Homo sapiens: one gene and its partners. The protein of the gene in region 2 purifies or fractionates together with the protein of the main gene of each other region. This does not show direct contact. Each region holds a gene or a part of one and is shown on either strand. Other genes may lie near its edges.

Region 1 (7,792 bases), on a different chromosome or scaffold from region 2:
TGCAGTAGAAGACGATCACCATGGAGGCGTAGCCCAGGCCTGGGGCCGGGAAGTCCTTGCCATGTAGATTCTTCCCTGGCCACCTCCCCCTGCCACCCCTTTATGTCCCCACCCAGGCTGGCCGTGCTCCCACCATCTGTCCTCCTGGAGCCTTGTTTGTGGTGCTCCTGACTCCCCTGGGCTCCCCCTTGTGTGAGCCCCAACACTGCGCTGACTCCCCAGCCTGTCTCCTCTCCTCCAGCCGCCCCCTAGACCCAAGGCAGAGCGAGCCCCTCTCCTCCTGTCCCCATCTGACCAAGTGCTGTGGAGTCTCCAGCCTCATACACCTGGCCCCTTCTGTGGGTCCCACTGCCACCATGGCGGTTCCAGGAGGTCCAAGCCTCTGCCTGGCCACCCAGTAGCCTCCAGTCCTCAGCAGCTGGTGTTGATGGTGGTGGTGGGGGGGGGGGGTTTCTAGTCGCCTGAGGTAGTGTTGGAGACAGTCGCCCCTGCAGTGGGCAACCTCAGTACGTCGCTCCACCTGTCTGTGCCCCAGCGTCCTTGGGGATAGTAACAGTAGGACCTACCTAGAGAGCCAAGGGTGCTGCTGGGCAGGTCCCGTCCCCAGCCCGGCTATGCCTGGCCTGTCCTTGCCTTGTGGAGCTGCCTATGCCCCCTCTAGTCCCCGCTTCCCCAAGTTCGCTGTGCGGCCTGAACATCTCCTCCAGGCTCCCCCCTCGAGACTGGGACGCCATCACGTGGCCCCAGGCCTGGTGCTCACGACAGGAAAAGATTTCTCAAGTGGGAGCCAGCTGGGAGAAGGGGGCAGTCCCTGAGGCTGGCCAAGGGCTGCTCACCTTTGAACAGGGGACAGATGTTCCAGACATTGATGCTGCCGGCCTTCATGAACTGGCCCAGCGAGATCTCTAAGAAGAAAATGGGGATTCCTCCAACCAGGGCGATCAGGACGTAGGGAATAAGGAACACACCTGGGGGTGGAGGCACAGCGTGGACTCAGGGTGGCCCCCAGCCAGGCTGCCCAGGCCCAGCGGGCCAGCCCAGACTCCAAAGGCCCCATCACAACTTCCGACTGGGTGAGTCAGTGTAGGGGTGGCCACTGACTCAGGCCCCAGGTGGAGTCTTGAGGGGGTGGGTTGAGTGTGTTGAAGAGGGGCTACAGTAGCCCCTGAGCCATTGGAGCCCTATTCCCTGGGTGGCAGAGGGGCCCTAGGCCCCCAGGGCTTCCACCCCCACGGTCACTTGGGGCGATGGCCATGGAGGACACACACGCTCAGACACGCGGGCTGTCCCTAGTGCTGCAATTCCCTGTTTCAGGCAGCACAGTGAGGGCACGTGCATGTGTGCATGTGTGCCAAGGCTGGGTGATCAGGCCTGGGGGGCTCATCCAAAGGCAGGGAGCGCGACTGTCCTGCCCTTGGACGCTTGCCTGCAAGTGTGAGGTCTAAGGCAGAGGGTGGGTGGGTCACAGTCCCCTGCTGGTGGGATGGCGATGTGCAAGGACAGAGGGATACAGGTGCGGAAGAGGGGCCAGGCCGGCCTTAGCAAGGCCAGGGAGTCAGGCTCTGCAGGAGATAGGCAGGGCGTGACACAGGCCTATCTCCTGAGGCCAGCAGGCTGGGGTGGGGGTGGCAGAAGGGCAGGGAGAGCTGGGTGCCACTACCCCCTTCTCCTCTCTGGGCCTCCTACCCTTGCCCTGGCTGGGCTCGCTCCACTACTCAGAGGCTGAGCTTGGCTGCAACTTGCCTGACTCCAGGTCCCAGCATCCTTCTCCTGACCTTGGGCAAAGGCCTTTGCTCTGGACCTCTGTTTCCCACCCATCACCGGGTCACTTCGGCTTCCAGCAACCCCAGTGCTGTTTTGTAGTCACAGGACACACGCGTGCCCATCGCTGTTGCTAAGCTGGGCCCGGGCGGGCGGGCGGGCGGGCGGGCATGGGACGTGCATGCAGTGTGTCCAGTGGCGGCGCCAGGCGGGCCAGGCCGCAGGCTTCCCAAGCCTGGCTCGGGCACCCAGTGTTCCAGGCCCGGGCCAGAGGGGAGGGGCGGGAGGGCCGCGAGGGGAGGGGAGGGCAGGGGGAGGGACAGAGTGGCCCATTGTGTGTGTGTGTGTTCGTGTGTGTGCACACGTGGGGGGCCCACACAATGTGCCGCTTGTGTGCCCGACCCGTGGGGGCAGCCAGGGCTCCTTACCTCGCGGAGACCCCAAGGCGCAGGCCTGCTTTCCCACCTCGGCGGCCAATCGCTCCTCCCAGCCCGGGAGTCTGGGGGGCAGCCTCGCGGGCATCGCCGGCCCCCTCCCCCCACCATGCCAGGCACATGACTGCGAGGGGGGTGGAGGCGCCCGGCCCGGCCACCGAGCGGCAGCGGCGGACGAGGGGCGGCCCCGACCCCCGCGTGCCCGGGGGCCACCCGTTGCCCGGACTTCACCCCTCCGCGGCGGCTCCGGGGGTCGGGCGGGGGCCGGCGGCCTGCTGGGGGAGGAGGCCGCGGCGGGCGGGGGAACTCACCTCCGCCGTTCTTGTAGCACAGGTAGGGGAAGCGCCACACGTTGCCCAAGCCCACGGCGAAGCCCACGCACGACATGATGAAGTCCATCTGGCGCGTCCAGGTCTCGCGCGGCGGCACGGCCAGGCGGCCGCCGGGTGTCCCCAGGCCCACGGGGCCGTCGCCCTTGGCCGGGGCCCCGTCGGGCCCGGGCGCGATGAGGGGGCCCTTCTTCTCGTCGCCGGACACGCTATAGATGCCGTTCTCGGCGCTCTTCTTCGCCATGGCCTCGGCGGGCCGCACGGCCGGGCCGGGGTCGCGGCGCCTCACGGGGGGCGGCGGTCAGGCGGGGGGCACCGGCGGCACCGGGGAGGGCCCCGAGGGCGCGGGCCGGCCGGGGGCCGGGGGGCGGCCGGGCCGGGGGACGGGGCGGCGGGCGGGCGGCGGGGTGCGGGGCGCGGGCGGCGCAGTCAGAAGCAGTCCACGAAGCACTTGAAAGTGAGCCTGAAGAATCTCATGTGTGTCGGGGGCCCGGGGGCGCGCGGGCGGCGGCGGGGCCCGGCCGGGCGGCGGCGGCGGCGGCGGCGGCTCCCGAGGCTCCTGCCCGCGGCTCGGGCGGCGGCGGCTGCGGCGGCTCCTCGCCCGACCCGAGGCTCAGCCTAGCGGGGCGCGGGCGACATCGGCGCCCGCGGTCTGCAAGCGGCGGCCGGAGCAGGGGCCTGTGGCCCGCGCCCCCCGCCCCGGCCGGGGCCCGCGGAGGCTGCCCGGCTGGCCCGCGACTCCGGTGGCGGTGGTGGCGGCGGCGGCGGTGGCGGCGGCGGCGGCGGCTCGGGCGCGCCTCGCCCTCTCCTTCCCGGCGGCGGCGGCTGCAGCCGCTCTCGGGGCCGCGGCGGGCTCAGCGACTCGCCACCTCGCTCCGACTATCCCTCTCTTCCCCGTCCCCGGCCGGCCGCCGCTTAAAAACCGACTCCGGGGTGATGTCACTATCGCCCCACCCCCACGGCCGGCCGGCCCCCCTCCCCCTCCCCCTCCCGCATCCCTCCCTCCCGCCCTCCTCGTCACACTCCGCCCACCTCCTCCCTGCCCTCCTCCCGGGGAGGAGACGCCGCTCCAGCGGGAGGCAGGATGGTTGCTACCTGGGGCGGCCGCCAGCTCCTCCCGCAGGGCTCCGGGCCGCCCCTCGCCCCAGGGTCGCCGGCTCCTAGTGCAGCCCAGGCTTCCCGGCCGGCCCCTCCCAGCCCTGGGAAGACGTCCCCCGGGCCCCCTCAGCCCTCCGCCTCCCCTTCTCTCCCTTTCTCCCCGCTCCTGGCAGGCTGCAGCCGTCTCCTCCCGGTGCTCCCTCCTTCCTTGAGCTCTCTCCACCGCTGCCCACTGGGGGCTACAGCTTCCCGGCTACCCTGGAAGCTGGAGGCCGGGACCAGCTCTTCAGGTGACAGGCCTCTGTGTCTCCACAGTGGGCAGAGGGGAGCCTGCCTGGCTGATGAGCAAGCCTCGACTTTGTCATCAAGGCAGAGAAGGGGCCCGGGTAAATGACCCCGGCGGCCCCCACCCCTGCCTGGCGTGAGAGTGGGTAGGGGCTTCGGACTTGAGGGGACTGGAGCGGGAACAAGGCAAGGCTGCCCCCTGGTGCCTGGCAGGTGCACAGACCCTTCCCCAAAGGCCTCAGGCCTGAGGTCCTGGCTGCCCGCCCCCCACCCACCCCGTGTTCCTCTCCCCAGGACCCCCCAGGCCTCCCTAGCAAGAGCCAGCTTGTTGGGCTGCCTCTCCGCCGCCAGCTGAGCAGCTTGTTTAGAATTTTCTAGGGCTAAGAGTAGCCTGGGGGTGGGGTGGGGAAGGAAGTGGTCATTGTCCTGGCCTGGGAGGTAAAGTGTGCCCCCCTCAGCTTCAAGCTCCCTGATCTGATCGTGGACACTGCAGTCCCCAGATGGCTCATCCCGTTAAGCTAAGCCCGCGGCCATCCGTCCAGCTTTAGGAAGAAAAGCAGTTCCGGCCCAAGCCAGATTGAGCTTGCTGGGTGAGGGAGGGACAGTGTCCCCACCCAGGCTTGGAGGAGGAGCCTCAAGGGGTGTGTGTGGTTGGGGGAGACAGGCGGTGTCACCTGTGCTTAGACCAGGGGTGGTGGGTGGGTACCCCTGAGGTGGCAAGGTCACACTGCTCATCAGAAGTTTCTCACTAGGGTCTTCTCTGGCCCAGCCTTTGACTGAAGCTGGTCTGGAGACAGGGGCATTAGAGAAGTGACTCATAGATGGCCTAAAGAAGCGGGGCCACTCAAGGACCCAGGACAGAGGGAAGAGGGCCAACCCAGCTGGACCACAGGCAAACCCCATTGCCTTTGAGAGAAAGAAGAGGACCCGGTGAAGTAGGCTCGGAGGGCCTCAGCCCAGCAGGAGTGCGGGGTGGGCGCGTGATGTCATCGAAGGGAGGACGGTGACCTGGGGGAGGGCCGCTTTGAGGGAGAGTGCAGGCCACGGCCAGACAGCTCTGGGAGCCGCGGGCAGGGGAGACTTTCAGATGTTGCTTGTCAAAGGGGTGGGGGTGGAAGGGAGAGAAAGCAGAGGCTCGAGAAGGATGTAGGAGAGCTGATGGCACTTTGGGGAAGTGACCACTGCTGCGGTTACTCCTCCGGTGGGTTCCGAGGCCAGGGACAGGATCATGAGGGAGTCGCCACCCCTGACTGCTGCTGCCTTTGTGAGATCAGAGGAGGCCGAGGCAGAGGGCGAGGTGGCCAGGCTGGAGGGTACTGGAGACAGAAGTGAAGGGTGGGGGGCTGTCCAGAATGGCTGCCACTGCTCCATGGACCCTCGGAGTGGGAGCCCCCACATCTGAGGGGAGGTCCAGTGGGCCCCCATACCTGACTCCCACGACCTCCTGGAACTGGGCTCTTCTCCAGGCAGCCACCCCTTCCCACACCCACCTTCTTCCCCGCCCTTTGCCAGCCCAGCCTGGGGTGCACCCACTACCAGCCCCTGGGCCAGGCCCTGCCTCCCGCCCCCAGCTGGTCTGGACCCCATAGTGACTGTGAACTCCTCCTCACGGCCTGGGCCAGACCCCAAACTGCATTCTCTGAGCAGCCAGAGGGACCCTCCTGAAGCACAAATCTGACCAGCCCCTCCTTTATCTCATCCCTTCTTTGGGCTTTTCTGTGCCCTGGAGGTAGAACTAAATTTTTCTCCAAGACTACGAGATGGAGTGTGATGGGGCTGTGCCCTCCCAGCCTCGGGGCGTTCCCCCTGAGTTTTCCCTCCACGCGGGGCCCACAGCCTGGGCTTCCCTTTCTCTGCTGACCTCCAGGACTCTGTCCCAGGAGGCTCCTGAGGGAGGTTCAGGAACCCTCCCCACGTCGGCCACCCTGGGAGCCGCCCCTGCCCAGCCAGGGCGAGCTGGGCCTCTTTGAGCAGTGCATGAAGTTCAGGCTGGTAAGGCTGGAGTTCCCGGCGGGGAGCTCCGGCCGGAGCTCTGGTCTCTGTCACAGGCTCTGACCCGGGCGGCCAGTGACAGGGTCTTCTGAGGCTGCTCCCACGAGCTGCTGAGCAGTTGGGGGAACAAAGGCAAAGCGATTTCCATCCCTGGCTGGGTCCTCTCCCACGTCCGAAGGCTTCAAAGCGTTCTCGGGCTTTGTCAAGGCGCGTCAGGCTCGGCCCGGGGGCAGCAGCTGCTGGGGAGGGGCAGGGTGGGCTCTCCAGGCCCCCAGCTGAGGGCCGGGTAGCTGTCCCCCGCCAGCCCTTTCCAAGCCTCCGCCTGTCTTGCCAGGCCCTTGTGTTCTACTCACTGAAGGGGGGTTCCGAGCATGTGCAGGAGGGGGTGGGGGTGCCCTGCGACCTGTGCCCAGCCCAGAGCTCCTATGGTGGCTTCTGGGTGAGAAGCAAACTGTTCTCTGGGGCAGAGGCGACCGGGGAGGGGCGGGGGGAGAGCTGCACCCTCCCCTTACCGTGTCCCAGGGAGTGGGCAGCCTTTCAGGCCCCAGCTGGGGCTGGGGGGTTGGAGTAGGAGCTGAGGAGGAGGGAGAGGGGAGGAGAAGGGGAGCTGGGGGGAGGGCAGGGGAGGGGGGCTAGCCGGAATGCTCCTGTTTGTTGGGGGAGGCCTGAGAATTGGAGCCAGCGCCCACTCAAGCCTAGGGCAGCTGCGGACCGGGGAGGGGCTGGGTGAGGGGCCACCGGGCCCTGGGGTGACTGGTTATCCTGGGAGGATGGGCAGCTGGAGACAGGATGGGGGCGCCTCCTCTTCTGAAGGCGAGCCGGGCACAATGAGCTTTGGAATTAGAATAAGCTGGGAACAAAGGGGGAGCCAGAGTCCACCTGGAAGGGCTTTGTACTTCCAGCTCCTGGGGAGGGGGCCGACGTGCGGCTGCAGCCAAGCGGAGAACAGAAAGAATGGGGCTGGGGGCGAGGGCCTGCAGCAGGGCAGGGATGGGGGGCAGCAGAACCCCCCACCCGCGCCCTTCCCACCAGCTGTGCTCGTTTACACAGACCCGCAGAAAGGAGGCTTTGCTTTGTTTTTTACATTTTATGTAAACTTTTATTAGGCTGGTTTTATTTGTTTTATAGATTGAGAGGGTACAAGCGCGGTTCTGTTACATGCATATATTCCGTGCAGACCCATCACCCTAAAGCTGCCTTGCAAAAACTGTAACAGTAACAAAATTCTGCCAGTGAGAGAGCTGATCTAACCAACCCTGTCTGCATTTACCCTCCAAACTGTTTTTGGTCTTTCCTGGGCATGGGCCAAGCTAACTTTGGGAGAAATTTCGTTTATAGTTTAAATGATAACAGACCTTCCCAAGATGAAACCGCCTTTGTAAAAGTAATGAAAGGCCATCAGGTGAGGAGGATGAGAGGGGCCTGAATTCTGCTAACATGGAAGCATTCATGATGACCAGCCATTGTTCAGAGCTCAAGAGATTTGTAACTTCTCCAATTACTCCTGTAGATAATGTCACTATTGTAGAACCTAAGGTTGGCTTTTTGAGACGTCTTTGCAGGTTTTTGCATTTCTCACTACCAGATGGCTCCACCCGGACCACATAGACCTATGACTCAAGGTCCTGTGGCCCTACCTAAAAGCAGACTCAGCTCAGCACACAAGAATCATCCCCCACCCAACCAGTCAGCAGCACCCATTCCCTAGCCCCCTGTCCGCCAAACTATCTTTAAAAAATCCTAGCTTTCGGGCTGGGTGCGGTGGCTCACACCTGTAATCCTAGCACTTTGGGAGGCCCAGGCGGGTGGGTCACTTGAGGTCAGGAGTTCAAGAGCAGCCTGGCCAACATGGTGAAACCCCTGTCTCTACTAAAAATACAAAAGTTAGCCGGA
Region 2 (7,622 bases):
CATGAATGGAAATAGCTTAGTAATTCTGATGTTATTTATGTTTAAAACCATATAAATACAAACGCTCTTAATCTGTATATTGGAGGGGATGTGGTAACACTGGGATTTCATTATTTTCTGCTTCCTCTACTTCTTTCACAAGATAATGGTGTGTGTGGGTTTTTGCGCTCTCCCCACTGCTGACACATTAAAGAAAACTGCTGACAGACCCACTGCTGTAGATGTAAGGCATTTACCTGGTGCCGACTTTCTGGGATGGCATCAGTGAGTTATTCAGATAAAAACCCAGCCATTTTAGATCAATTTGTCAAATATCAAACCTAAAAAGAAAAAAATGATTAACGCATTCCACTGAATATAGTCAGGTTTTTATTTTTTAATTTACAGAGTAAGCTTCCACACTGCATCTTAAGAGTGTTTTTGAAGGGAGTGAAACCATCTGGTTCACATCAAGAACATATTTTTCCTTATATAGAGCTAGACTGCATTAAGTGGTGGGCACAGGATCTCATCATCTTCCTGCCTGTGGTCAACATCTTCCCCAATGCCCTTGTAGATATACATTAGGCAAAGAGAAAAAGAACGTTTTAGGGTAAAATAGTGCAGTCTCATTCCTAGCCATTTCTTTCTATAGACATGTAAGAAATGTCTATAAATGTAAGAATATGAAAATAGATTGGATTTTTACTTGTGAATCTACAGCTAAACTTAAATGATTCTATTACTTAGTATAAAGCTTATGCACATTTTATTGTACCATAATTTAAAAAATACCTTTTTAAAAGATTACCTTTTCTGTTTTTCTTTTTCCCAGAAGTAATGCTAACGCGTCGTATAAATGTCAAGTTACAGAAGGATGTAAAATAAAAGTAAACATATCCTTACCCTCTATTACTTTTCTCTGCATTTACTTCCCAGAGGTACTACTAATAGTTACCTATGTCTCCTTCTAGGACTTGTATACACATGCATATAAATATGTATATTCATAAAAAATGCATACACATGCATATAAATATGTATATCTATAGTTTTTTCTTTTTGTACATCATAGTATTTTCTTCTTTGTTTCATTTATTTTACTTATGATGGCTAGCAGATTTCCTACATCAGCATATATAAATCTACCTCATTCATTTTGATGGCTGTACAATATTTCATTCATTGTACTCACACATAGTTTATTTAACCAGTCTGCTATTAATGAGCCTTAATCTTTTTTTTCAGTTTTCCTTTTGGCTGCTACAAAAATGTCCCAATAATAATATTTACATATATGCACTTTTGTACTTATATGAATGTATCTATATAATAAATTCTAACAGACTGTTGAACCAAATTGTTTGTATATGCTAAGTTTTTGATAGATATTCATAAAATGTCCTCCGTTAAGGTTATACCAATTTATAATACCAAGAATCTGGGTTTTATCAAATCATTTTTTCTTTATCTGATAAGTAAAAGGTATATCTTTGTTTTGACTTGCATTTCGTTAATTATGAATGAGGTTGAACTTCTTTTCATTTTCTTATTGTTTCCATAGTAATTCTTCTACGAGTTTTCTCAGCCATGGCTTTTGCTCATGTTTCAATTAGGTTGTTTATTGTTTCTCACATTAAAGAGCTCATGTTATGTTAAGGAAACTTAAATTTTACATGTAATGGCTGGCAAATAGCTTTCCCAGGTTTCTTGTTTAGATGATAACTTTGTTTATGGTACTTTTTACTGTATAAGCATTTATTTTTATGTAGTCAAATTCATCAGTATTTTTAATTATATATAGGAGGATTTTTTAAATAAGAAATTTATTTAAAGTTGAAGAGTTATTCAAGAAGATTGTATATAGGTTAATTTTTAAACCAACTTTAGCATACCAAGTTTAGCATTTAGGCATACCAACTTTAGCACTGTTATACAGAATAATGTTAGCATTGGAAGGATCTATTAACAAAAGAAAGTTCCCATAAAATGATTTCTTCTATAAAATATCATGACCGTGTGAATTCTGTGGACTCTTTGTGAGACACTAGTGTACCACAGGAAAAAAAAATGACAGAAAGGGTCAGATTTATAGTACCATTCTCCAGAGAGTTAATAGTAGTTGTCTAGTACCTAAAATCTAGAGTGAATTATAAATAAAGTAATAGAAATTCCAAGACAAATAGAAAGTAAAAAATATAAAATCAATAGAGATCCATTATAGAAAATTTTGTAGGTACATACAAAAGAAAGAAAGAAAAAAAATCATCCTCAAAAGCTCTTAAGATTTGTTGTATATTGTTCCTAATTTTTCTTATTGGCTCCACAGATATGCATGCATTTAAAAAACATGTAAGTGATTTTACTAACAAATCAATCCTAACATAATTAAATGAATTTCATTAAGATGCCAATAACCCAAGACCTTAATGGCACCTTGACAAGCATCTACCAGGTATACACATACATGGGATCACACTTACGATTCATATGTTATACAGTGATTTTTTCACTTACTACTATCTTTACTTGCCACTAAATATTTTAAAATATATAAATTATATATTACATTTTATATTTATACAAAATATATAACAACTGTAATGTTCTATCATATGGCTTAAGTTAATGGAAATTAAAAGGAATAGGAATAACTGTGTGTTCTCTCAAAAATCCACTCTGGTAACTCAGTAGATAATAGACCAGGACATACTCAAGAAATCATTACCCAAGAATCACATCTTTTTCATTCATGATAAAGTGGCAGCAATTAACTGTGTAACTGAGGGCTGGGAGACATCATGATAAAATGTGTTTTATATGAAGTGACATCATTTGAATGGGAGAGTTAGATTATTAAAGCTGGGTTAATGGAAAATTCTCATTCTAAGGGCAGGAGCATTTGAATTGATGGCAAGAAGAATTTGAGTCAAAAAGTAAAGTATATGTGTTGATGAAATTGTAAGTGTGAAGGAAAATATATGTGCTGATAAAGTTGTTAAGTATATGAAATTTACTAGAAAAAAATGCTATGCTACGAGAATTTTTCCAACTGTTAAAAAGAAAAAAATGCTATGCTATGAGATTTTTTCCAACTGTTAAAAAGAAAACCTTGTGCAGATTGCATTCAGCCACAGCCACAAATATTGGGGCTTAGTGAAACCAGGGGACTCTTAGGGGCTATAGAGGGTGATCACTGGTACTTTATTTTTTATTAGTACTAAGAAACTCTGCCTGCTATGTGTAAGATATCTTTTGGGTATTTCTCCTTCTTTCAAACTTCCACTACTTGTCATGATGGCAGCCCTGGATTGATTTTGCCCTAACCCATAACTTACAAATTAGATGTTGTAATGTCAGTGCTACCTGAATATCTACAGTTCTAGATTCAAGGAGCTGGTGAAATTTTATCTCCTACAAATTTTCTCAATACCATTGAAAAAGTGGCTGCTCAGTCCTGTTGGCACAGGTTTCCCCTCAAACATGATCCCAGGGAACCCATACACACCTGTCTTTTGACCAACATCAATAAGCCCCTGTCAAAACAGGAGATATTCGGACAGATCCAACTGATGGCTGTCAGAGAATCTACCTGCACTGGGTGAAACAGCTCAGGGACTGAATCATTTGGGGAGTCACTGGCTTGAGCATTGACTGGTTAGTAACTATATTTTACTACATTTTTGTAAACCATGCTTGTAGTAAATAAGCATTTATATTAAAAGCTGAAAAAGTAATATGTAATTTGAGTTGGAATGCTGAACAGTCTATGTGTATGTAGAAAACAGAAAATAACTTGTCCAATCCAAGGGAGAATTTACTTTATAGCATGAGAGCACCAAAAAGTAAACAGAAAATTTTGGATTTTTATGGGAAAAAATAGAGATATCAAAAGTTGTTATTATTATTATTATTATTCGAGACAGGGTCTTTCTCTGTTGCTCAGGCTGGAGTGCAGTGGTGTGATCATGGCTCACTGCAGCCTTCACCTCCCAGACTCAAGCAATCCTCCCAACTCAGTCTCCTGAGTAGTTGGGACTACAGGTCCCAACTACTACATGGTGTGCGCCACCATGCTCTGGCAATTTTTTATTTTTTGTAGAGATGGGGGTCTCAGTTTGTTGCCTCAGCTGGTCTCAAACTCCTGGCCTCAAGTGATCCTCCCAAAGTGCTGGGATTACAGGTCTGAGCCACCATACCTGGGCTCCAAAGTTAATTTTTAAAAGTATGTCATCTACTATTTTTTTAAAAAGCTTTATTGAAGTATAATTGATATACAAAAAGCATGCATATAAAAATATATTTTAGTGGATTTGGACAGGCTGTCATAGTTTTGGTATTTTTTCAAACAGTTAAAGAAGGAATTTCTAGAATTTCCCATTATTGCACTTAAAGGTAAGGTGACAGGAAAACATTAGATCAAAATGGAATAGATCTTGTTTGCTTTTTTTAAAAAAAATTTATGAGGGAAACAGATTTTGATCTCAAATTAAAACTTTAAATAAATTTTCAAATAATTAGTTGGCCTTAAAAAGTAGGTAGCCCAGTATAGAGCAGACACTGTAGGTAACAGCTAAGAGAACAGGCAATGAAATTAGAATTCTTATGTTTACATCTCGACTGTATCAGTTACAGCTTTTGGGTAAACTACTTATCTCATTATTACTTGGTATCCCAATCTATAAAATAAGGATAAAACAGAAACTATCTCACAGGGTTGTTGTGAGGATTAAATAAAAAAAATTTAAAGAAAGACTGAACGTTGTGTTTGGCACATTTATGTACTCAATAAATATTAGCTTTATTAAAAACGTTAGTTAAGAGCCAAGAAAACACCTCTTCATAATTATTCTAAACAAGCCACAGGTACGGTACACTGTGTTTCTTTTCCCTTAATGTGCATTTGAATCACCTGAGGATTTTGCTAAAATGCAGATTCTTATGCAATCAATGGGTCTGGACAGGGTCTGAGATTCTGCAGTTCCAACAAACTCTCAGGTGATACTCATGATGCTAATATGGGAACTGGGATACGTGAGATAATTTTAGATGGTTTCCTCCTAATTTGTAATACAATGTGTCTCAACAGGGGGAATGAGGACAGGGGGAGAAAAGAAGGTGTGGATGAAATGTACAGATTTCATATGCCCCCTGGGTGATTCCAGTATTCTTGTCTCACCTGCCTCTGTCATCTTAAGAACCACCGATTTGATATTTCAACCTTTTATTCTTTTTAATTTTTTCTTTCCTTACTCTTTTCTCCACTTTACCCTTGTCATTGCTGCTGTAGACTGAAAAACTGTATTCATGCTTAGCTCTTCAATTAGCAAGACAAAAGCATCAAATTTGTCATTGTGTGTAATAGGACAGTGTATCTAAATGAGATTAGAAAAATTATTTATTTCTTAACATTTCTTTTTTAAAATATAAAGGTCTGAAAATGTATTTAACATTTTCTGTAGTTTTAGCCAAAAACAAACAAATAAGCAACAAACAGGCAAGCAAGTGACTCCGTGGAACATTTAGTAAAAGAAAACAAGGATGCGTTAGGTGCCATCCATACTGTCAAAGGAGTTATAATCTCACGAGGAGGGGAAAGGAGCAGTGGTTATTACAGAAGTGGCCAGAACCAAACAGTGTGACCACTTTAGACACACCATCTGGTCTGAAAGGCAGGACAGAAGGAGGGGCCATTTTTAAATGGCTTCCCACCCTACTAGCATTAGGCTATTAGAGACCCATGCCAAAATATGTGCTTAGCTTGACTACTATCTCTCTACGGCAAAGACCATTTTTATACTTTGGCTTGTATCCTCAGGGCCTAATATCACTCAGATCCACAGTATTTCCTCTGTAAGTACCTGCAGCTGTTGTTGATATATTTTATAGACATAATTCTTCATTTTCCAAAGTAGATAAGAGGAGCTTTGACTAATATAGAATCAGAAAATATCTAAATAAACTTAGCAAATTAGCAACAACAAATTCTCTTTAAAAGTACAAAATCAGGCCAGGTGAGGTGGCTCATGTCTGTAATCCCAGCACTTTGGGAGGCCGAGGCAGGGAGATCACTTGAGGTCAGAAGTTTGAGACCAGCCTGGCCAACATGGCGAACCTCTTCTCTACTAAAAATACAAAAATTAGCTGGGCGTGGCGGCATGCACCTGTAATCCCAGCTACTAAGGAGGCTGAGGCAGGAAAATCATTTGAACCTGGGAGGCAGAGGTTGCAGTGAGCCGAGATCATGCCACTGCACGCCAGCCTGGGCAACAGAGCAAGACTCTGTCTCAAAAAAAAAAAAAAAAAAGGTACACAATCATATGTGTATTTCTCAATATTCTTATTTTGTACTTAAGCATACAGAGTACTTAAATCCATTGAACTAAATAAAATTTCTACATTATTTGGTGAAGATGAAGGCATCTATGTGTGTATAAGTGGACAAGAAATCACACAAAAGTTGACTTAAACTGAAAGATTATTAATTCTATGATTTTAAGTTTTAAGGAAATCTAGAATTGGGACTTGAAATAGGAAGGCACATTGTAATAATAGGAAACAAGGCACACTCATTTTTTACCCATTTTCCAAACTTTTAAATGTTAAAAAAATTACATGTGAGATTAACAACACAATAAAAACATTCTTGGTAATAGGAAGGAGACTGATAATCACTGAGAGATTCTAGACATTTGTTTCTACTTAAGACAGTTAGAGAATGCACCTATCGAAGAAACAAACACAAACAAAACAAAAACAAATTCAAACCCTTCTAAATTAACTATAAGAATAATGTAATCATACAGCATTTATACTACATAATGAATTTTTTGTTACTTAAATATTTTGGAAGACAATTTTGATTTTCATATGCAAGAAAGTTTTTCCTCATCTGAGCATCTGCTTTGATAAGAAGAAAAATCCCATAGCAAATATTTTAATGTTAATACAACCACAGCTAGCAGCAATAGTCACTAGTCCTTTTATGACTGTTCCAAACATATACTCTGTTTTCTATTTCCAGTTGTCTAATTTGTCACTAACGTAATAACTAGGGAAACATCTGGCAATTTATAGTTCTTTAAATTATAAGATTTTTTTTCTGTGATTGAAATATTGCATTTTAGAGCTTTAATAGGATAATGGTAGTCACTTGCCAATTTAGTTGAATATTACCTTAAGTCCCTATAGATATTCCTTGATTTAAGATGGCTTTATATATTAAGCTATTAAAAAGTTGATTTTTAGAAGCTAAAGTTCATATTATGAATAAAACAAAATGTAAAGTGATAGCTAAATTTAGGATACAAATCGATCAAATTTACTGTTGCTTATCAGAGATTGAGTATACTGCTTTAACAAGCAGCTACAGTGAAAAGAAACACAAACCACATAATCCAATGATCTTAGGCAATTTTGAAAAAGAAACATTAGGAGAATTTTGAAGGAAACTAATAGCATTTTCCAATCATCACGTGTTGGAAAGCTGATTTGTCAGTTTGCTAGATAACATGGGAGAAAAGTGTTCCTAAGCTGGGCTTGGACACTTGGTCACATTGTGTTGCTCTGGCTCCATATTTGTTTATTGACACAGCATATCTTCAAAACAACGTTTTAATCTTTACAACACTTGGACTGACTTC
Region 3 (7,410 bases), on a different chromosome or scaffold from region 2:
TGCACTGGGATGGGAAGGCTGCTGGTGGGCAGAGTTCAGCTGGAGCACTGATAAGAGTCCTCCTCGGGCCTCCTGCAATTTGAGAGGTCCCTTAGGCATCCGAGGGGGAACACCCGGGAGGCAGCCAGGGCAGAAGTCTGGCAGTCCAGGAAAAGGTGGACATGGTGCAGCTGGTATCTGCAGTATTTACGGTGGCCTGATGGTCTATAGACAGCATTGACAGCCCTGGGGGCCATGAGATTCCTTTGGGAGCAGTAGGGGGCGTGGCGCGTCCTGGGCTGAGAGCAGAGCAGGAGGCGGTGCAGGAGCCTGAGATGAGGACAGAGTGAACCCAGGCTGGTGGAAGGAGGGCATCCTTGAGCACCCAGGTAGGAGTGCAGCCCTCTGGGATGGGCCTCTCTTAGAAACGTTTGTTGCTTTCCATTGAACCAATCTCCCAGGAATCGACTGCATCCTTCAGTGTTGGGTGGGCTGAAAACACCCCACCTTAACACCAACACCAAAACATTGTTTAATGGCCCAGGATTAGGATGCAGGGAAAATAGAGCCTGGAGAAAGCTGACTCACTGTCAGCTGTAACAGACTCACCAGGACTCCAGCCAAGCTTAGCACCCCCAAACAGCAGAATGTTGGGGGGCAGCCCTTCCATCCTGCAGCGGTTCACTCAGTCACTTGTGCATTCCCCAAGTGTCTGCTGAGCAGCTGCTCTGGGCCAGGCTCTGTTGTTAAGCCACAAACAAGGCAGATGCCATCCGGGAGGGGCACGCTGGAGTAGCCGGTGAGACCGGAGGAGCAGTAGCAGCAGAAGCCCAGCCTGGAAGGAAGGGCTGGCTCCGTGGCCTGGCTGTCCTTTATGGAGGTCTTTGGAGTTGAGCCAGGTGCAGTGAGACCTGTGCATAGGTTTGAGCAGGGGCCTGGCCTGATCACATGCCCCCAGGTCTGAATGAGGCCACCAGCTCAGCGAGATCTCACCCCACACAGCCCTGGGGTCAAGGCCTGCAGCACTTTGTCCTTTTTGTGACTTGATGGGCAACAGCTTTAGCAGGCGATGTCCCAGGCGGCTTCCACACCACAATCCTGTACCAGAAAAGGCCTAAATAATGAGGCAACATCTGCATTGGCTACGAAAACTGAATTCTGTTTCTTTTCATTAAAAACGTCAAATTATTCTCAATTTCTGTGTTACCCCTAATTCAGAAACCAGTCTGGGGATAAAGGCCTGAGTGAGAATAGCTGACCATCTGCCGTCTGGCAGATGTGGCTTTCCCGAATGCAGAGAAAATCCGAACCAGATTTCAGATGGGGTGCTAGAAAATTCCAATGTGGAGCTTTTTGGCTTACTTTTTTTTATTATTATTTTAAATAGGAACGGGGAGTATCACTCTGTTGCCCAGGTTGGTCTCGAACACCTGAGCTCAAGCGATCAGCCCGCCTCGGCCTCCCAAAGTGCTGGAATTACAGCCGTGGACCACCAAACCTGGCCCTGGCTCACTTTTTGCACTGGAGAGGTGATGAGGTTGGCATCATTTCAGCTGATTCCGAAGCACTGTGCTTTGCCTAGCTGAGCCCCTGGAGGGCTGAAAGAAAGTCACCGAAAAAAGGTGATTAATTGTCTAAACGACAGAGCCAGAGAGGAAATATTTTTAGCTTTCCAGGCCTGGTCTCTGCTGCCGTGACACAACTGTGCCCTTACAGCATGAAACTTAAACCAGTAAAATTTTATTAACCAAAACTAGCAGAGAGCTGGGGTTAGCCCCTCAGCAAGCCCTGACACCTTGTCTAAACCCAGAAAACCAAATCCTAGGTCGAACCTTGGCCCCAGAAATGCTTCAGAACTCCTAATGTGTCCACCTGCTCACATAGGCAGGGGTGGACAGGTGTTGGATGAACCCCAGGGTCTGCCTGGCAGCTCAGCGCTCCGTCTGCTGCCCCCTATAGGGATGGCAGTACAAGGTGGGCCAGCTACCATTGGCGGCTGTGCTGACACTGGCCTGTGCGAGGCCAGGCAGAGGCCTCCCCATCAACTCCTGGCTTCTAGAAGCAGGAGGGGGCCCAGGCTGAGGGGCCAGGGAGCAAAGAGAGGCAGCAAGGACTTGAGTGCGTGAGGCAAGGTGGAGAAGCCAGAGGAGGGAAGGGCTCGCTCCTGGAGCAGTGCCCTGCCGGAGGGTCAGGGGGCTTAAGGGCTGCCGTGCGCTCAGCTGGGGGCAGAGGGCCACTGTGCCGGGGGAGTCTGGGGCACAGCGGGAGCTCTTTCATGCGGGAAGTTCCGCTGATCTGAGGTCTGCAAACTCCTGTGGGGAGGGATGGCCAGGGAACAACACAGAGCGGAGCCCGGGAGGCAGCAGAGACGCAAGTTTTGGAATGTCTGACTGGAAGATGGAGGAGGAGACGGGAGAGAGGACAGGCGGAGTGAGGTCAGAAGAGCAGGGGCACCAGATTGAACCAGACCCAGTCAGACACGGGGGCTGTGAGGAGGCCACAGGGGCATCTGAGCAGAGACAGGCTTTAGTGGGTGCAAATCAAAAGTGTGGCCATTTTCGGTCTCAGATACCTCCAGCTGGGGACTGCTGGGCTCTCTGGCCTGGAGCTCTGAGTACAGGCCTGGGCCACAGTTTCTGGTTATAGCCAGATGGGCCCCAGCACTGTGGCCAGGGTGGAGAGGTATGGACAGAGAGGAGGAGGGACAGAGCCAGGCCAGAGCTCTGGGGCACCCAGGGACAGAAGAGAGGGCAGTGGAGGAGATGGGGCCAGGGCAGCTGGTGAGGTGGAAGAGGGCCAGGCAGGGGCAATGTCAGGAAGCCATGAGAAGCTTCCAGAAAGAGGGATGATCTTCTGTGTTGAGTGCCCTGAGGGATCAAATCAGACGAAGATGCAGAAGTGGCCAGTGGAGTTAGCCGCAGGGAGACCCTCGACATGGCAGGTCCCGGCTCCAGCCATGGGAGCTGGGGGATGGAGGGAGACCCATGCGAGAAAGGCCGGCAGTGCCCATAGGCTGGGAACTTGCTCATACCAGCAGGTACTTCGGACTTTCTGGTAAGATCGAGAAGACATCCCACTCACCAGCATTCTCTCCTTTTCAAATCATCTTTCTTTTCTACCAAATTGGAATTCAGATTGGGCAGAGACCCCAGAGGTCACCAAAGCCACTCGTCTCCCCAGGACAGGGAACTGCGGGGTCACAGCCAAGAGCCTAGTGCAGCACTCTCAAGTTCCAGAATACCTGCCCAGCTCAGCCTAGAGAAAGACACTGCCATCTTTTCCTGCATGCGGATCGGTTGACGAGACCAAGGCCCACACCTGAAAACTCTTTCCAAAGGCAGGCAGAGCCATCCCATTCCGTAGCAGCCCTCCAACAAATGGGTGGACATTTCTCATGCCATGACCCCCAGCCATTGACGTGGGTGGAATTTACCAGCACCAGCCGGCCACTGACTGTCTCCTTCCTTCCTTCCTACCTTCCTTCCACGTTTCCTTTCCTTTCCCTTCCTTTCCTCCCTCCCTGCTCCCACCTCGCGCCCTGTCCCTCCACCTCCCACTCCAGATCCGGGTGGTGAAAGCGTTCCGTAGCTCGCTCTATGAAGGCCTGGAGAAACCAGAATCCAAGACCTCCATTCACAACTTCATGGCCACGCCCGAGTTTCTGATCAATGACTACACCCACAACATCCCGCTCATTGACGACACGGACGTGGACGAGAACGAGGAGCGCCTCCGGGCCCCCCCGCCCCCGTCCCCCAACCAGAACAACAACGCCATAGACAGCGGCATCTACCTGACCACGCATGTCACCAAGTCAGCTACCTCTTCAGTGTTTTCCTCCAGTCCCGGGAGCCCGCTCCACAGCGTGGAGACGTCCCTCTAACAAGAACTTGTCTCAGCACATGCGCACACGCACACTCGGACTCACACGAAGTCACACGCACACATGCACGCACACACACATATGGGGACCTGCACACCTGCAAAACGAGGGAACAACTAAGGTGGCTGAAGACCTTTCTGGCAGGGCATTTGCAAGGACCCAAATCCATTCAACAAGGGTGCAGCCTGCCACAGGCTCCTCATCCGGACTGAGGAAGACGAGGACAGGGAGGAGGAAAAGGAGGAAGAGGAGGACAAAAAGGGGGAGGAGAAGGTTCTTCGTCCAAAGGAGGAAGGAGAAGAAGTAGAAAGTGCGAAGAGCTGAGTTCCCCACCTTTTTTTCTATTGATGCTTCTTTTTTAACAAACTACAGTTTTACCGTGTGTTTGCCATTTGAGCTGTGTGGTGGGCAGGGGGCTGGTTTGGGTTTATGGGGAGCTTTTGTTGCACCCATGCAGGGGCAATCAGATCAGCATCTTCATGCAAAAAAAAAAAAAAAGTTGAGTGCTCTGCAGGCCTGTGAAGGGTGCCACCTGAGGGAGCCGCCTGCAAGCGGCCCTGCAGCCACAAAGCAACCCGCCCTCTGCAAAAACTAGGCACATCCGCAGTGCGCATGTGTGTGCGTGCATGCACATATGTGTATGTGTGTGGATCTGTACACACACACGTATATATGGCCAGATGCGTATTTCAATAAGGAACTATTTACTGGCATGATATTTGCATTCCTCTTATCAGGCATTTTCATTTGGAAATTTCATTATTGAATGTAGCAAGGTTGTAGTTGTTTTTTTTTTTTTTTCAGGGAACTAGACTGCAAGAATATCTTTCTGGTCAACCCATTTTTGTCCCTCATCACCCCGCCCCCACCTTTCGCTCCTGCCCTCTGCCCGGCCCTACTGAGATTCCCAAGGAGAAGGCCGAGAGGGGGCGCTCCAGGTCTGGAGCAGGTATAATTGGAGCATTTGCACTGAGACCCCTGCCAGAGAGGAGAAAACCCTTTCAAGGGAAATTTTAATCTAAAAGGAAAAAACCAAAATATTGATGAGAAGGAGTCCTCCAGTTAGTGAAAGGGGAGTTTCGTTTTCAGCTTTCTTTGGTTCCTACTCCAATTCCACATCCTTCATCCTGGCCATGCCCCCACCTTCAAGAGCATGAAGCACTCTTGGAGTTGTGGGTCCTGCCCAGAGTCCAGAGAGCAGCCTCAGCTGAGCACAGGTCCGAGGGGGCGGGGGCAGGGCCAAGAGTTCAAAAGAAGCCAATGGAGGGAGAGGGAGCGTCAGAAGCCCGGAGGAGCTGGTGGTGGGAGAATGACGGCAGGGACGCAGCCACAGTTCAGACCCTGTCCCCTCAGCACCTGGATGGACTCCCACTGTTTGCTTTGGCAAATGCCGAGGAGTCCTCGGTAGACCACCTTGATGTCTGCTGTGACATCAGAGGTGCCACCACCAAAGCACTCTTCCCACCCTAGTCTTTGTGTCCAGCGGCCAAGCTTAAGCCATGAAGTCATGGATTTGTGGCTCAGCACCAGGTCCTGAGGGGAGCGTATCCTGGCAGTGTGGGCACCTGGTGGCCAAGCCTCAGTTTCCCCCAAATGAGCAAAGGGGATAAAGAGGGGCCCGACTTTTGCCACCCTCCTGAGGAAGCCCCTAGGTCCACACAGTGATGCCATGGGGGACCCTTGCCTTCCACACTTGCAGGTGTCACGTTTTGCAGGGAGGTGTTTGGGCCTTGGGCTCAGCCACTGGGAGACAGTTGGGACCTGAGGGACAGAGGATCGGAATGGAAACCACCAACGTGCACTGGCACCCTCAGAAGGCTTGTCTCACCTCCACCGGCATCCACACAAAACCAAACAGGAGCAGGCGTCATCCCCACTATTCCCATGAATGCCATGTCACCCCTGAGCAGAAGCAGTCAAATCTTGGGCAAAAGAATTTCGGTTAGAAAAGAAAATCCCACTTTAAAATGCCAGCTGCAGATAACTCAAAGCCATCCCTTTTTTCTAAAGGGCACATTGAGAATGTCACCCATTTGTAAACTGTTCCCTGATGTCCTTGTTTAAACGATAATAAGAAAAAGGGCAACTCCATTTGTTGAGGGTCTTTGTGTTCTTCAATGAGAAATCAAATTTGAGACGTTGAAATTGGAGCTGCGTGCTGCTGCACTCACCGGCTTCTTCTCACTCTCTGTCGTAGACACACCGATAGGACCAATGGCCAATAGATATTAAAAGCAAACCCTCACTGCTGCTGTATAAAGTTGCCTAATGTAAATGTCTATTGTTTAGTCCCTAGGTCACCTTTGTGCTGTGCTGTGGAGTTCAGAAACGGGGTACCATGACCTGGAATCTTTTGCTCTTGTTTTTGCAGTCTTCAAGGCTGGGGGCCCTGTCTCATTGGGAAGCCCCTCTTTATAAAGCATTATATTACTTGGAATGGCTTGGTCAACTGTGTTCAGTTCATAAATATGTTTTACATTTTTATCTGCCTGTTATAAAGATGAACAAAAAAACTTAATGAGAAAGATCACAGATACGTAATAATTTAAAGTCTGTAGTTGAATTTCCTAACTTAAAGAATAGACCAAAATTTCTGTGTATAAAAAAAAATGAAAGGCTCCTTACATCCTGGTCTGGGTAACGTGTGTGATTTATTATTTGGTGAATTATTGTGCAGAACAAAACAAAGGTGCCTTCATGCCTCTTTAACAGAGCTGGAGAAGCCCCGGGCAGGAGGGGCTTTCCCCTGGGTGTGCAGCAGCCTGGCCGGATGTGTATGCAGAAGAGGAACTTATGCTGGGATGTTAGGCCCCCAGTGGGAGGGGCTCCAGCTGCTGCAGGAGCCGCGGCTGTCTTGACTTGAAAGGGCCTCTAGTACACGGCGCGGTGGCTCAGTCCTGTAATCCCAGCGCTTTGGGAAGCCGAGGCGGGAGGATCCCTTGGGCCCAGGAATTTGAGGCTCCCCGACACACATGCACGCTCCCCACTTCTTTTATTGTGGTAGAACACAGATCACATAAAATGTACCACGTTCACCATTTGTAAGTGTGCGGCCCAGGGGCAGAAGCACATTCACGGTGCTGTGCAGCCATCACCACCGTCCAGCCGCAGAACTTGTTCATCTTCCCAAACTGAAGCTCTGGCCCCGTTCAACCCCAACTCCCCACCCCCCAGCCCCTGGCACCCAATCTTCTACTTTCTGTCTCTATGGATTTGACCACTCTAGGCCCCTCATAGAAGTGGAATCCTACAGTATTTGCCCTTCTGTGACTAGCATGATGTCCTCAAGGATCATCCATGTGGAAGCATGTGTCAGAATTTCCTTTTTAAGGTGAATCATACTCCATTGTCTGGATATGCCACATTTTGCTTATGCAATCAGCCATCCATGGACATTTAGGTTGCTTCCACATTTCAGCTATTGTGGACCATGCTGCAGTGAACATGGGTATGCAAACCGCCCTTCCAGACCTTGCCTTCCATTCCTTTGGGCCTATACCCAGCAGTGGAAATACTGGATCCTATGGGAACTGTAGGTTGAACCTTTT

The links.
Region 1: the proteins of AGTR1 (region 2) and SLC6A8 purify together in Homo sapiens (affinity purification with mass spectrometry; 3 studies listed by BioGRID and IntAct, with this or other methods). This does not show direct contact.
Region 3: the proteins of AGTR1 (region 2) and ATP2B3 purify together in Homo sapiens (affinity purification with mass spectrometry; 3 studies listed by BioGRID and IntAct, with this or other methods). This does not show direct contact.

The regions. Positions count from the first base shown.
Region 1 is NC_000023.11:153,683,551-153,691,342, reverse strand, and holds the start of SLC6A8 (sodium- and chloride-dependent creatine transporter 1), read right to left. Parts: upstream 3,418-7,792; 5' UTR 2,769-3,417; coding exon 2,507-2,768; intron 1,833-2,506; exon of another isoform or gene 1,744-1,832; intron 969-1,743; coding exon 837-968; intron 40-836; coding exon 1-39. UniProt on the Homo sapiens protein: Creatine:sodium symporter which mediates the uptake of creatine. Plays an important role in supplying creatine to the brain via the blood-brain barrier.
Region 2 is NC_000003.12:148,700,642-148,708,263, reverse strand, and holds part of AGTR1 (type-1 angiotensin II receptor), read right to left. Parts: intron 321-7,622; 5' UTR 237-320; intron 1-236. UniProt on the Homo sapiens protein: Receptor for angiotensin II, a vasoconstricting peptide, which acts as a key regulator of blood pressure and sodium retention by the kidney.
Region 3 is NC_000023.11:153,576,437-153,583,846, forward strand, and holds the end of ATP2B3 (plasma membrane calcium-transporting ATPase 3), read left to right. Parts: intron 1-3,541; coding exon 3,542-3,862; 3' UTR 3,863-6,493; downstream 6,494-7,410. UniProt on the Homo sapiens protein: ATP-driven Ca(2+) ion pump involved in the maintenance of basal intracellular Ca(2+) levels at the presynaptic terminals. Uses ATP as an energy source to transport cytosolic Ca(2+) ions across the plasma membrane to the extracellular compartment.